2 linked regions of the Homo sapiens genome follow. The protein of the gene in region 2 purifies or fractionates together with the protein of the main gene of each other region. This does not show direct contact. Each region holds a gene or a part of one and is shown on either strand. Other genes may lie near its edges.

Region 1 (6,729 bases), on a different chromosome or scaffold from region 2:
TTTCTGACAACTGATTGTGAAACCTTAAAACCTGCATACCTCTTCTTACAGTGAGGAGTATGCAAAATCTGGAAAGATATTCTATTTTTTTTATATAGGTAGATAGGATCGCCATTTATTTCCTATTTAGATATACTGACATTCATCCATATGAAAATATGCAGGTCATTAGCTTACTATAATTTACTTTTGACTTAATGGGGCATAAATAAAACTTTCATAGTACACATGAGGTGGATATTTGATACACAGAACATTTGCGGTGGGCTTTCTGTGGGTTAGATGTAAAGCCCACATATTTTAATATTCACTATTTTAAATGAGCAATGCATGAGGGGAATGCAGTGTCAGTACCTGGCCTATTTTTAAACTAGTGTAATCACCCTAGTCATACCATTCAGTATGTTTGCTTTTTAAAATAAGTAACCACAACTAAGTTGTTGTAGCCCTTGCACTTCAAGAGATCTAGTCTTTACTTTCAGTTGTCTGTTAGGTCCATTCTGTTTACTAGACGGATGTTAATAAAAACTATGCGAGCCTGAATGAATTCTCAGCCAAATTTAGTCTTGTCTCTCATCTTGATTGGATTAATTCCAAATTCTAAAATGATTCAGTCCACAATAGCTCTAGGGGATGAAGAATTTGCCTTACTTTGCCCAGTTCCTAAGACTGTGAGTTGTCAAATCCCTAGACTGTAAGCTCTTCAAGGAGCAAGAGGCGCATTTTCTCCGTGTCATGTAATTTTTCTAAGGTGCTTGGCAGCACTCTGTACCCTGTGGAGTACTCAGTACCTTTTGTTTGATGTTGCTGACAAGACCTGAAAAAAAATCCCTTAAAAAAAAAACCCATTAAAGTGTAGCAAAACCGATGTATTATTTTTTCTCTTTTCTCATAAACCATAAGATATGTATATCAAAATGATAATTTATATGAAGCATCTGCTATCCTTCACATAAGTATAGTTTATATGAACTACAAATACCTTTCATCAACATTAAAGAAGCTTAAATTGAACACTGTGTGATTAACTTAACTTTAATTCAGACCTGAATATAACGAGAAAATGAGTGATTATCTTGAAGTTGACACAGAATATACCACATCCCACGAATTACTTAAATTTACTTTCCAATGAAAAAAATCAGCCATTGGCGATATAACTACAACAACTATGGCAGAAATGCTTTCAGGCTGAATATTGCTGCTTCATAAATAAGACAATTTTAGCAACTAAATCCAGACACAATTAGTTGGAGATGACTTCCAAAATAGATGAAACTTTAGAGATGGAAAAGTGATTTGGCTGAGGGATGATACTCCCTATGCCATCTGCATATTGGCACCCTGCTTTGGGGTTTGCTGCAGAAATGGTGCAATCAGATGGATGTGAGGAAGCAGTTATGGACTGGCTCACAACTTCTCAGAGAAGCTACACTGGAATCTTTACAGCTTACCAGTTTCTCAATTATGTCAGATACAGAATAATCACCAAAAAAGGCTTTAGAGGGGAAAAATACTCTAATATTTTGAATTTTAAAAATAGATTTAATTTACCTTTCCTACTTACCTTCCTAGATGGCATAATCTACACTTAAATGACATTTAAAATTAGAAATTATATTAACTTCAGCATTGTTTTGTGTCCTAAAGAGATATTGACAGGTAAATTCAAAAGTTGTATTTGTGACTTAATCTTATTTTTACATGGCTAAAAGTGGCCTATGCTCTTCTGTGGAGTTTTCCTCTTAATTTCTTCTATTCTTGATATTAAACGGGAGGACATATAGATTGAATTCTCTTTTCCTGAAGAATTTTTATATTCCTTATGAACTTTGACAGAGTTGTCTTCTTTCAAAGGTCCTTATCTTTCTAAACTATCTATCTTCAGTTGTTTAGTATAAAGAGAGAAAATTGTTTCACATTGAAGCTTTTGCTCCTTTTTACAAGGTATTCTTAATCGATTAAATATCACAACAGTGACAAGACATACACTAGGTTTCAAAAATATTACATCATAGGACTTCAAAGAATGGAAGAATATAGCCTAGCAGCAAACAAAAGTATCAGCCTTTTATGATTTTAGTTTTAGTGTGGATCTGAAACTCCTTAAAAGGAGTGCTATTATTACTGTAATTAAAATGTCTGAAGTTCGTTCTTAGAAACGTTGTAGAGTATTTAAAGAAACATTGTTTTAAAGACAGTGTAGTAATGGATAAGACTTTAAGTATGGTGCAATTCCAGATGGTTAGTTACTGATTTTTAAATAAAAACACCAACGTTTAAATATTAATTAATATTAATTTTGGAATAATATCTGTCGCCCCCATTTCCCCCTAAAACAGAACTGATTTCAACCCTTGGTTGCTGACCTAGGGCATGTTATAACCCTCACAGTCCTAAATCATTCTTTCTCATGGCATTATACTCTTCCAATCTTTTTATTATATTCCTCAAAAATCAGTGGCAAGGAATGGGAAAGATAGATAAGGGACTGTACATTTTAAAATTTTTAAAGATTTCTATACTTTTATGGCCATGACACATCATTTTCATTTTTCTGTTGTGCACCCTTTTTCTACAGGAATGGTAAAAACAATGGAACATCAGGTCAAACAACTCTTGCTACTAATGTAAACTCACTCTCAGAAAACCATTCTCAAATAGACAATGAGGATCGTAAAGAAAGCATGTGAATGCTATACAAGTGGGAAATAAACTTCTTTGAAATAAAAAGACGTCACTTGTAGAGTTCACAGGTGACGGAGGAGCAGCCGGAAGTGTGCCACCAGCCACCATCTTCAGTTCTGGGAGCCTGAGTTTACATGTTCCCCAAATGGCACAAGCCTCATAACAGTCCAATGAGTCAACAGACACTTGGGAAATATTAATAAACAAATTTTTATGAGCTATTACTACAAAGAACTTCAGCAAGAGGGGAGATAGTTTAGTGATCTTTTAGTAAACATTTTTAGCGTAACAGTCTTTGTGACCAGATAGTTTAAAAAAACGCTTATAAACACCATTGCTCCGTATTCAGCTGGTGTACACTAAAAATAGGATAATGGAAATACATGTTCTTAAAGCATTTCCACAGGAAATGTTCATATTTTTCATGACATTCTAAATCATTTTGCAATTACATATGCTACATTAGCTAAAACACAGGTATTCTTTATTGCACATTTCAAAGTTGTAAGGACGCTCTAGCTTAAAAGGTGATTTTTATTTAGGGAAGAAATGACATTTTTGAATTGTTTGGCTCAAAAATGCACACTGCCAAGGCAGCTTAGTTCTAACAACAAACCTTTTAAAATAAACTTTTGGATTTTGAAGCCAATGAAATCCTTTACTGTAATGGATAATGCACAGTACACTTTCTTTCCAATGAAACCTCAGAGGTCATAGTTTTATGGGCTCTGTTTTAAAGCCTGTGAACAGTCCTGGCTAGTGCTCTGAGAGGCAGGTGGAGGCTCATCTCTAGAGCCTGACGGCAGTAAGTCTCTTACAGCAGGTGGTGGTGGGTATTCCTGGGGACCATGGGTTGGGGGTGGTAATCGGGTACCAGGAATAAAGTACTCTCTTGGGCCAAGTGAACCTAAAGGTCTAAATGGTGCGTGTCCAGGTAAAAATCCCCGAGGGTGGAGAGGCAGGTCCCGTCTTCCTGGTGGAACGCCTGGTGCAAATTCTCTTAAGCCTAGTGGTGGACGCATACCAGGGCCTGGAAAACAAAAATTATTTCCAGTAAATTCCTAGGAACGTATTTAAATTAAGATAATGCCAGGTATGTTAATATAGTCTGTCATCCTTTTTTTTTTTTTTTTTTTTTTTTGGCGGCAGGGTCTTGCCTGTCACATGGGCTGGAGTGTAATGAGTGATCATGGCTCACTGCAGCCTCAATCTCCCGGACTCAATCAATCCTCCCACCTCAGACTCCCCAGTAGCTGGGACTACAGGTGCACGCCACCACTCCCAGCTAATTTTTGGATTTTTTGTAGAGATGGGGGTTTCACCATGTTGCCCAGGCTGGTCTCAAACTCCTAGGCTCAAGGGATCCACCTGCCTCAGCCTCGTCTAATGAATGCTGGGATTCATAAAGTGCTGGGATTACAGGCGTGAGCCACTGTGCCTGGCCTGCCATCTTTATCTGAAAAAGAGAGATAGATTTGTACTTGGAAGTACTATATACCATACCAAGAAGACAGACTAAATATGGCTTCATTGCAATAAAAATTTTGATAAATTCCATTAACTACTGTGTATCAGTTAAAAATTTATGCAGTAGCTCAAGATGTACCTAATAAATGCCATAAAAATTAAGGTGCTTGCCCTGCTGGAAAAGGCTTTCCAGCTCCATCTAATTAAATTCAGCAGCATTCATTAGATAGCTGTTAAATTCTACCTTCTCTTTCATATCTCCCTTCTTTGTATTCCCAAGGTGAGGGTTGAGGGTTTTGTCTTTCCTTAATATTCTGTGACCTACTGCTTATGCTTCCATTATGGGTGATTAGAAGCTTTATGTTGTAGAATGTGTATATTTGTGACCTACAGGACATCTTAGTTAGGGGATGTATTTTATCTACCTTGCTATCCATTGCAGAGCCTAGTACACAGCCACAGATGTTCAATGTGATGAATATTTCTGGCTTTTTATAAATAGCCCCTTTCCTTGTTCTATTAGAGACAACTATTGCCCATCTAATCACAGGAGATTATGTAGCACCCTTTGTGTCTGAAGAAACTTGGGGAAAAGTTACGGTGTACTCAATCAGCTTCACTGCTGCATTGCAAAGCCCCGCAATTGCAGTTGTTTTAGCAAGGGATAGATGGAGAAGATGAATGTGCTTTACAAGTCAATTACTACTGTTCAGATCATCTTACCAAAGGGTGGAGGAAGTGGCCGAGGCCCAAAAGGTCCGCAGAGCTGAGGTGGTGGTCCATATCGAATGGGTGGTGGTACAGGGCCTCCCATGGGGGTGCTCATGAGAGGGACTCCTGGGAAAGGAGGGGGCCCTTTTGGAGCCATATTAACCTGCAGAGTAGAAACAATTGAAGTTTTGAAATACTATGGTATGACAGACAAAAGCACCAACACCAGTAAAAACTAAAACCCAATGAAGCAGATGTCAGGCACTTGTCCAAAGAGCAGAATTAGTGCAAAAAACTCTACCCCTCTCATTTGTTCCCACTGACAAGCTTAGAAAGGTTAAAAGTATGCCACAGGAGTGAACACTTGCTGTATCATATTATTGCTTACATCTGCAAATGGAAGGGAACGCACAGGTTATAAATGGAGGTCATTCCTGACTAATGATAGAAGTTACGCCATTCATACATCTATTTCTAAGGCAGTCACTCCCTCTGCACATCCCTCCTATCAGAGTAATTTCCATATTAAGAATGCAGAGAATGAAAGGGAATGAAAAATCCATTCTCTACCATGTAACAGCGATTATTCAGAGTACCTTCTGTAGGCCCTACATATATTAACACAAATTCTGACATCTCTAAATCTGTAATAGGACCATCTTGTTCTAAATATGCAGGAACACAGGCGCAGAGAGTATTAGATTTGCTGATGGTCACACAGCATGTAAGAGGCTGGCTGGAATTCCATGCCAGGTTTGACTCCAAGGCCACGTTCTTTCCACCTCTGCTTCTCCTTTCTAACAAAGTAGTCTCTACACTCTTCGAAGTCTCCTACTTCAAAGGGGTCTCGGGTCTTATCCAAGCTGCTCTTGGATAAAAACATTTCTCAAGAAATGTGTATTCCTGGAGTCCTGTGCTGGAACTTGGAAGTATTTTCCAAGAGAAACAATGTTATGTACACAAATTATACAGGCACAGCTCTATTCATCTTCATTCACTAGTAATACTGTCTACTATGAGATACTGATTAATCACTTCCTATGGGAAAGTGGGTTGGAAACTCTCAATCATTAAAATTATTTTAATTTCAATGTCGAGAATCACAGTGAGGTATGATCAGAGGACTTACCAGCCATAACAGCTATACAAGTTACAAGAGAATACACTTATGTGGACACTGTTTAAGGACACTGCTGGGAACTGGCTCAACGGGTAATTATAGACTTCCACTATTCAGTATTTCACTTCCAGCAAACATTCTTCTGTTATCAATCTGTAATTTCAGATCATTCAAAATAGGGTTTGCCTAGTATACAACTGTAGGTATTCTTAAATAGCACACTTCCAAATGAAGACATAATAATGAATTACACAATTTACAATGAATTTACTTTGCCTAAGAGCATTAAACACTGAGACACACAAGAGTGGGGACTTTTCACTTTTGTTTAAGTTAATTACAGTTACAGCAGATGCTCTACACAGGTTAAATGTCTAACCAAACAGGAGAGAGGAGAAAAGGCCAATGAATCCGTCAGATTTCAGCAACACTCCCAAGTCAAGGATAAAAGTAAGATCAATATTGCCATGCAACTTATAGCCCAGTTCAGTCCACACTTCTAAGTACTTACTGCTACTGGACGCTCAGCCAAAGATGTAATGCTGGGAACTGAGGGGACTTCAGGCTCTTGGAGAACAGTTTGCTTTTTTAAAAAATAAATGAGATAGTACAGATAGAACACACAAATAGGAGATGAGGCAAAGAGAGAGTTGTAGGAAGAGCTAAATGTTCCTGAAATAACTAATTATTCAAAATGGGTGCATTTACCTTGCCTTCATCGAGTACCCTGGTAGGGGAAGAGC
Region 2 (8,836 bases):
AGTCACACCTACTCTGATGATGAGAATGGTGGGGTCCCTTGGTTGTCATCCCCATTTCAATCAGAGAGAAAGTAAAGGCAGCTCTCAGAATAAAGATTCATAGAACAGATGAAAAAGCAAAAAAGGCCACTAAAGGAAAGTGAATTTATATATATATTTTTTCACTTTAAGCATATCTTGGGCTCTTGCAATTAGGAAAAGAATAGCTATGATGCTATGTTCTCTCAGTTAAGGGCACTGGTTCTGGAATTCAATGATCTGTTTCACATTCTTGCTCTACCACTTATTCGTTTTTCATTTTGAAATTTAGTTTTCTTCACGTGTCGCTGAAGATTAATTATGAGTATGTGGCTTAGTAATGCGCATTCATCATGGACTTGCAGTGACACTGATCCTTCAGCACAGAATATCCTGGCACACGTTCCTGACCAAAAAGCAGCCATTTGTGGGGCACAAGCCAATATTTATTGCATATTCTTGCCTTGGTCTATCTTTCTGATACTAACACCAAATTTTCTAGGATAGAAGACTTCTAACTCTCAGGAAGTAGTTTGTTTCTCAAAGAGAAAACATGGGGTGTTCAGTTGGCTGTGTGGCTGCTCCCATCTGTAGAGGTGAAGTGGATGTACGTAGTCTTCTATGCTGACAGAATAATTCAAAAGAATGCTTTGAAGGTAAATATATAAATCAGTACACTCCCCCAACTCAATACCTTCATGAAATGTATCTTCATGAAGTCTGCCTATTACATTAAAGCTTTTTTTTTCTTTGACAGAGTTTCGCTCTTGTTGCCCAGGCTGGAGTGCAATGGTGCGATCCTGGCTCACTGCAGCCTCTGCCTCCTGGGTTGAAGCGATTCTCCTGTCTCAGCCTCCTGAGTAGCTGGGATTACAGGTACCTGCCACCACATCTGGCTAATTTTGAATTTTTAGTAGAGACGGGGTTTCTCCAATTTGGTAAGGCTGATCTCGAACTCCAGACCTCAGGTAATCTGTCTGCCTTGCCCTCCCAAAGTGCTGGGATTACAGGTGTGAGTCACCATGCCCGGCCTACATTAAAGTTTTAATTTCCAGGAAGACACTCCGACTTGAAGCAGAGTGATATAGTTTGGATACGTCCCCACCAAATCTAATGTTAAATTATAATCCCCAATGTTGGAAGTAGGGCCTAATGGTAGGTGTTTGGGTCATGGAGGTGGATTGCTCATGGCTTGGTGCTATCCTCACCATAGTAAGTGAGTTCTCAGAGATCTGGTCATTTATAAATGTGTGTAGCACTTCCCCCTGACTCTCTCTTTCTTGCTTTTGCTCTGCCTTGTGAGATGTCTGTCTGCTCCCACTTTGACTTCTGCCATGAGTAAAACCTTCCTGAGGCCTCATCAGAGGCTGAGGAGATGCTCCCTGTACAGTTTGCAGAACCATAAGCCAATTCAACTTCTTTTCATTGTAAATTACCAGTATCAGGTATTTCCTTCTTCCTTTCTTTTCTTTGTTTTTGTGGGCGGAGTGGGGAGGTGGGACAAGGTGCTGATTTTAAAAGATAAACAGGAGTTTTCCTGTTATAGAAAGAAGGCAAAACCATTTCAGGAAACCCTGTTATAGAAAGAAGGCAAAACCATTTCAGGAAACCCTGTTATAGAAAGAGGGCAAAACCATTTCAGGAAGAAAGAGTAGTATTTGTAAATGCACAGAAATATGAACTGTGGTGAAATGTTCTGAAAACGATCATCAGTTTGGAATTGCGGGAGAAGGGGTGCAAAGATGGGAACCTGGAACTTGAGGCAGGAGGTGAAGGCAGACCCAGATGATGAGAAGGTTGGCAACAGGAATTTACTGAAGGATTCTACCTGAAGGCAACAGGAATTTACTGAAAGGTTTTAAGCTGAAATTTATGGTTAATTTGGCAGTATTCTGGGAGACAGCTCAGTTGGGATTGTGGCTAGAGGTAGGGAAACTAGTGAGGAGGCTTCTGGAACAGTCCAGGTGAGAGGTGCTGAGGACTTGAACTTTGACCGTGGGGATAAGAATGGAGGCTGAGGAGTTAGGGAGGTGTTTGCCTGGTGTGGACTCAAGTCTCAGACTGCAGAGCAATGGACGTCCACACAGAAGGCAGTGAAGAGAGTCTATTTCCAGGGGCTTTGAAATGAGCTTGAATGTCAGACTTCTGGCTGACACTATGACTGTCTCATGCAGACCTTCAGACAGATTACTTACTAATAAGGAAAATGGTATAGTCTGAAAGTAATCTCAGGCTCTTTGGAATTATGAAGACAGGGCAAAAGTCAAGAGATGGTATGTTTTTGTGCCAAAGACATGGAGGTCTAATGCTGAACCTGAGTTTCAGGTCTGCCCTTTCTAATCAATTATAAGGTGAACTTCAAACTGTTTATGTCTTTTAACCTCAAGGTTCTGCATCTGCCAAATGGGGGACCGGATAATACTTCCTCCAATCTATTTCACAGCTAGCAAGAAAATACTTGTAAGCCATACTTCACATTCCTGACCAAGTCTCTTCCCTCATGAAATAAAATCATTAAGAAATTTTTAGTAATATTTTAATTATCATATTTTAATTAAAAATTTAAGTATAGAAAGAAGACTGTATAGCTCTACATTAAAAACACATTAGTACATGACTTGGCTACTTGACACCAAAGTAGCTGGTGTCACATTCACCCTCCCACGATAAAAAACTATACAATCTGGACAAAATATAGAAAAAAAATTCTTGGCAGTTGTATTAGTCTGTTCTCATGCTGCTAATAAAGACATACCCAAGACTAGGGAATTTATAAAAGAAAGAGGTTTAGTGGACTCACAGTTCCACATGGCTGGGGAGAACTCACAATCATGATAGAAGGCAAAGGAAAAGCAAAGGCACATCTTACATGGCAGACAAGAGAGAGGGCATGTGCTGGGGAGCTCCCCTTTGTAAAACCATCAGATCTCATGAGACTTATTCACTATCACAAGAACAGCATGGGAAAGACCCACCCCCATGACTCAATTACCTCTCACCAGGTCCTCAGCATGGTTCAGGTGGGCAAGGCTACACGTGGGAATTATGGGAGCTACAATTCAAGATGGGATCTGGGTAAGGACACAGCCAAACCATATCAGCAGGCATTGAAGAACATTGTTGTACCAAGTCAGGTATGAGATCTTTAAGGAAGGTGAGACACATGAGGTTAGTACCACATTTGCCAGGGTTTTCCAGAAAGGCATCTTCCTGACCTTGGTACAGGAAAATGGGACCCAACCAGAGGTTAGTGGTCTTGGTAACCAAAAGAAGCAAAAAATAGAGTTCAAAGCTAATAAGCTGGTTGGGAATTGGGGGTTAATGTACCATATGGGAGAGAGAAAGAACCCTGGAAATGGGTGTGTAAATGCCATTTTGGTCCTTCCGTGACTCTTTAGCTGTGTGACAGTTGGCTAAGAAGAGGAGAGACCTAGTAGAAAGCAACTGCTGGGAAAGCAGAAGAGATCATCAGGGACTGAAAATTTCCTGGAAACCTACTGGGTTTCAGATCCAGCCAGATGGGGAAATGTTGGTAAACAACTGAGAAACCCAGTTGGGACCCTAAAGATTCTGTCTAAGGAGAGGTACAGTATCCTAGGAGTAAGGCATATGTCCTAAGAGGAAAATAAAATATCATTACCATAGCACAGCTTAAAACTAGGTCTTGAGAGCAGCAAGGTGATCTGCAGGTAATATAACATCTGTCCAGAAAAAAATTCAAAATTTTTGGGCATTTCTATATCATATTATCCAGAAACTCAGCATACTTTTAAAAAGTTACCACATACACAAAAAAGCAAGAAATACAGACTCATAAAAAATAAATCAATTATTAAAAACAAATTCACAGATAATCCAGATATTGGAGTTAATAGATAGGGCATCATAATATCTATGATCAATATAAAGGAAAGAAAGAAAAAATGAAAGACAAAGCAGGTCGTGTCCTATTTCCTTCTGGCAGCTCTAAAATGCTCACTTTATTTATTGGCATAGATTTCGATTTCCTAAATTATGTTTGATGTTTCAAGCAAAAATCATAGCATTGTCTGGTGTTAATCTAAATGGATGTAAGACAATGATACTATAAATTTGAGAGGGTAAAGAGACATAAAATGACACAGGGTTGCTATACTACACTCAAACTGGAATACAGATGACACCAATTGACTGTGATAATGTATGTATAAAGGAATATCTAGAACAACCACTAAGCTATAAAAAGCAACCAGAAAACTATAAAAAAGAAGATACATCATAAACACTATGAATAACAAAATGGAATTCTAAAATAAATGTTCAAATAACCCACAGAAAGTCATGAAAAACAAGCAGAGACACAAGAGTTGATAGAGAAAACAAAAACTGTCAGGCTTATGCACTAAAGTATCAATAATTCATTTAATTATGAATGGTCTACCAAGAGACAGATAATAGAAGAGTGTATGTAAAAGTATGACCCTTTCTTATATGTTTCTTGCATGCTGTGTACAAGAAACTCACTTGAAATTTACCAATACAGGGCAGGCCAAATTAACAGGATGAAAAAAGATATATTACACAAACATTAATGAAAGGAAAGCAAGAGTGCCTGTATGTATATCAGATAAAGCAAAGAAAATTACCAGAAACAGATTATATAATGATCAAAGGTTTAATTCATGAAGAAGACAGCAATTTTAAAAGTGTATTCACCAAAAAATAAAGCTTCAAAATATGTGATGTGAAAACTGCCAGAACTAAGGCGGGCCGGGCTCAGACCAGCGCTGCCTCAGGATGTGAAGTGTAACAAGAGGGCCAGGGGAGGTGGTGGGGGACAACATGGGCCTGTGAGGCCTGTGGGTGCCCGCGTTCCCCAGCTCCCCCCGCAGCCCGCTCCACAGTGGTCCGCTCCGGTTGGTTGTCACGTGCGCATTCGGGTTCCAGACCCAAGGCTGCGTGTTCTCCACCGCTTGTTGTGGCCAGTGTTACTGCGGTGACCGCCAGAGCAGCCTCGACGCTATGGAGGAGCCTGGTGCTACCCCTCAGCCCTACCTGGGGCTGGTCCTGGAGGAGCTACGCAGAGTTGTGGCAGCACTACCTGAGAGTATGAGACCAGATGAGAATCCTTATGGTTTTCCATCGGAACTGGTGGTATGTGCAGCTGTTATTGGATTTTTTGTTGTTCTCCTTTTTTTGTGGAGAAGTTTTAGATCGGTTAGGAGTCGGCTTTACGTGGGAAGAGAGCAAAAACTTGGTGCAACGCTTTCTGGACTAATTGAAGAAAAATGTAAACTACTTGAAAAGTTTAGCCTTATTCAAAAAGAGTATGAAGGCTATGAAGTAGAGTCATCTTTAGAGGATGCCAGCTTTGAGAAGGCGGCAGCAGAAGAAGCACGAAGTTTGGAGGCAACCTGTGAAAAGCTGAACAGGTCCAATTCTGAACTTGAGGATGAAATCCTCTGTCTAGAAAAAGACTTAAAAGAAGAGAAATCTAAACATTCTCAACAAGATGAATTGATGGCGGATATTTCAAAAAGTATACAGTCTCTAGAAGATGAGTCAAAATCCCTCAAATCACAAATAGCTGAAGCCAAAATCATCTGCAAGACATTTAAAATGAGTGAAGAACGACGGGCTATAGCAATAAAAGATGCTTTGAATGAAAATTCTCAACTTCAGACAAGCCATAAACAGCTTTTTCAGCAAGAAGCTGAAGTATGGAAAGGAGAAGTGAGTGAACTTAATAAACAGAAAATAACATTTGAAGACTCCAAAGTACACGCAGAACAAGTTCTGAATGATAAAGAAAATCACATCAAGACCCTGACTGGACACTTGCCAATGATGAAAGATCAGGCTGCTGTGCTTGAAGAAGACACAACGGATGATGATAACCTGGAATTAGAAGTGAACAGTCAATGGGAAAATGGTGCTAACTTAGATGATCCTCTGAAAGGAGCTTTGAAGAAACTGATTCATGCTGCTAAGTTAAATGTTTCTTTAAAAAGCTTAGAAGGAGAAAGAAACCACATTATTATTCAGTTATCTGAAGTGGACAAAACAAAGGAAGAGCTTACAGAGCATATTAAAAATCTTCAGACTCAACAAGAATCTTTGCAATCAGAAAACATATATTTTGAAAGTGAGAATCAGAAGCTTCAACAGAAACTTAAAATAATGACTGAATTCTATCAAGAAGATGAAATGAAACTCTATAGGAAATTAACAGTGGAGGAAAATTACCGAATAGAGGAAGAAGAGAAGCTTTCTAAAGTGGAAGAAAAGCTCAGCCGTGCCACTGAACAGCTGGAGACCTATAGAAAGCTAGCCAAAGATCTTGAAGAAGAATTGGAGAGAACTGTTCATTTTTATCAAAAGCAGGTTATTTCCTACGAGAAAAGAGGACATGATAATTGGTTGGCAGCTCGGACTGCTGAAAGAAACCTCAGTGATTTAAGGAAAGAAAATGCTCACAACAAACAAAAATTAACTGAAACAGAGTTGAAATTTGAACTTTTAGAAAAAGATCCTAATGCACTTGATGTTTCAAATACAGCATTTGGCAGAGAGCATGCCCCGAATGGTCCCGCACCATTGGGTCAGCGTTCATCTGAAACGAGAGCTTTTCTCTCTCCTCAAACTTTGTTGGAGGATCCACTGGGACTCTCACCTGTGCTTCCGGAGGGAGGAGGAAGAGGCCCAAGAGGCCCAGGGAATCCCCTGGACCATCAGATTACCAATGAAAGAGGAGAACCAAGCTGTGACAGGTTAACCGATCCTCACAGGGCTCCTTCTGACACTGGGTCCCTGTCATCTCCGGTGGAACAGGACTGTAAGATGATGTTTCCTCCACCAGGACAATCATATCCTGATTCAGCTCTTCCTCCTCAAAGGGAAGACAGATTTTATTCTAATTCTGAAAGACTGTCTGGATCAGCAGAACCCAGAAGTTTTAAAATGACTTCTTTGGATAAAATGGATGGGTCAATGCCTTCAGAAATGGAATCCAGTAGAAATGATGCCAAAGATGATCTTGGTAATTTAAATGTGCCTGATTCATCTCTCCCTGCTGAAAATGAAGCAACTGGCCCTGGCTTTATTCCTCCACCTCTTGCTCCAGTCAGAGGACCATTGTTTCCAGTGGATACAAGGGGCCCGTTCATGAGAAGAGGACCTCCTTTCCCCCCACCTCCTCCAGGAACCATGTTTGGAGCTTCTCGAGGTTATTTTCCACCAAGGGATTTCCCAGGTCCACCACATGCTCCATTTGCAATGAGAAACATCTACCCACCGAGGGGTTTACCTCCTTACTTTCACCCGAGACCTGGATTTTACCCCAACCCCGCATTCTGAAGGTAGAAGCGAGTTCCCTTCAGGATTGATTCCGCCTTTAATGCTACTGAACATCCAGGACCACAAAAGAAACCTGACAATATTGTTGCTTTCTTCAAAAGTAATTTTGACTGATCTCATTTTCAGTTTAAGTAACTGCTATTACTTAAGTGATTGCACTTTTGCTCAAATTGAAGTTTAATGGAATTATAATTCTCAGGATAGTATTTTGTAAATAAAGATGTTTTAAATAGGAATCTTATGAGTAAATCATTCCATTTTATTATTCTAGATCATATAACTATTTTAATTTGGTGAATTAATCCACTGTTATAGAAACAATAATGGGAGTTTTATATATGTAATCTTGCAGGTGGGGAGGCTTTAAATTCTAAAGGTTGTGGTGTCTTCATGCCAAGAACTGTATTCACTGTGGTTGTAGATAAATGTGAAAGTAACTTTATGCTTAATTTAATAAACTTTAGTTGATTTTTTTTTTAAAAAGAAAACTGCCAGAACTGAAAGTAGGTATAGATGAATCCACAATTATAGTTGGAAATTTTCTCTTGCGTTTTTCAATAATGGATAGAACTAGACAGAAAATCAGCAAGGAGTGTTGGCTTTGGCAGCACTTTCTAAAATTAGAATGACACAGACAAGATTAACACGTCTCCTGCATATAGATTACACAAAATTTTGTGAAGCGTTTCATATTTTAAAAGGGGGGAAAAAAAAAGAAAATCAACAAGAATATAAAACAACTCAAAATGCCATTAACCAAAAGAATCTATTTGGCATTTACAGAATATTCCACACAACAACAGCAGAATACACATTTTTTTTGAGTGCTGACGAAACACATGGCAAGATAGAGCTATCCTAGGCCCTAAAACTCACCAGAACAAATTTAAAAGAGATCGTAATCATCCAGAGCAGGTGAAAACCAGAAACCATTGTAGGGAATCCAATTGGAAATCAGCATAAGAAAGATATGAAAATTCCCAAACACTTGGAAATTAAAAAAACACACTTCTAACTAATCTATCGGTCAAAGAAGAAGTCTCAAGGAAAAATTTTAAAAATACATTGAACTGGATAAACATGAAACTGTGACATATCAATGTACTGAGAAGGAAACTTATAGCAGTAAATGCATGCATTAGTAAAGAGGAAAAGTCTCGAGTGAGCAATAGATTTCCACCTCAGGAACCTAGAAAAAGAAGAGCAGAATAAACTCAAAGCAAGTAGAGGGTGGAGATTAATGAAGATAAGAAAAGAAAACACTTATATTTAAAAGAGAAAAAATAGTTAAACCAATAAAACAAAGGGATAGTTCTGTTAAAAGATTAATAAAATTTAGCAAACTCAAACAGAAATTAAAAGGAAAAGAAAAGGCATAAATTTTAAATACCATAATGAAACAGGTGATATCACTACAGACACCACATATAACAAAGGACAATCAAGGAATATTACAAACCACTCCACACACATAAATTAGACA

What was found.
Region 1: the proteins of CTAGE6 (region 2) and MIA3 purify together in Homo sapiens (affinity purification with mass spectrometry; 2 studies listed by BioGRID and IntAct, with this or other methods). This does not show direct contact.

Annotation. Positions count from the first base shown.
Region 1 is NC_000001.11:222,662,298-222,669,026, reverse strand, and holds the end of MIA3 (transport and Golgi organization protein 1 homolog isoform 1 precursor), read right to left. Parts: coding exon 6,695-6,729; intron 6,570-6,694; coding exon of another isoform or gene 6,498-6,569; intron 5,030-6,497; coding exon 4,879-5,029; intron 3,719-4,878; coding exon 3,408-3,718; 3' UTR 1,020-3,407; downstream 1-1,019.
Region 2 is NC_000007.14:143,753,842-143,762,677, reverse strand, and holds CTAGE6 (cTAGE family member 6), read left to right. Parts: upstream 1-4,981; 5' UTR 4,982-5,019; coding exon 5,020-7,353; 3' UTR 7,354-7,589; downstream 7,590-8,836.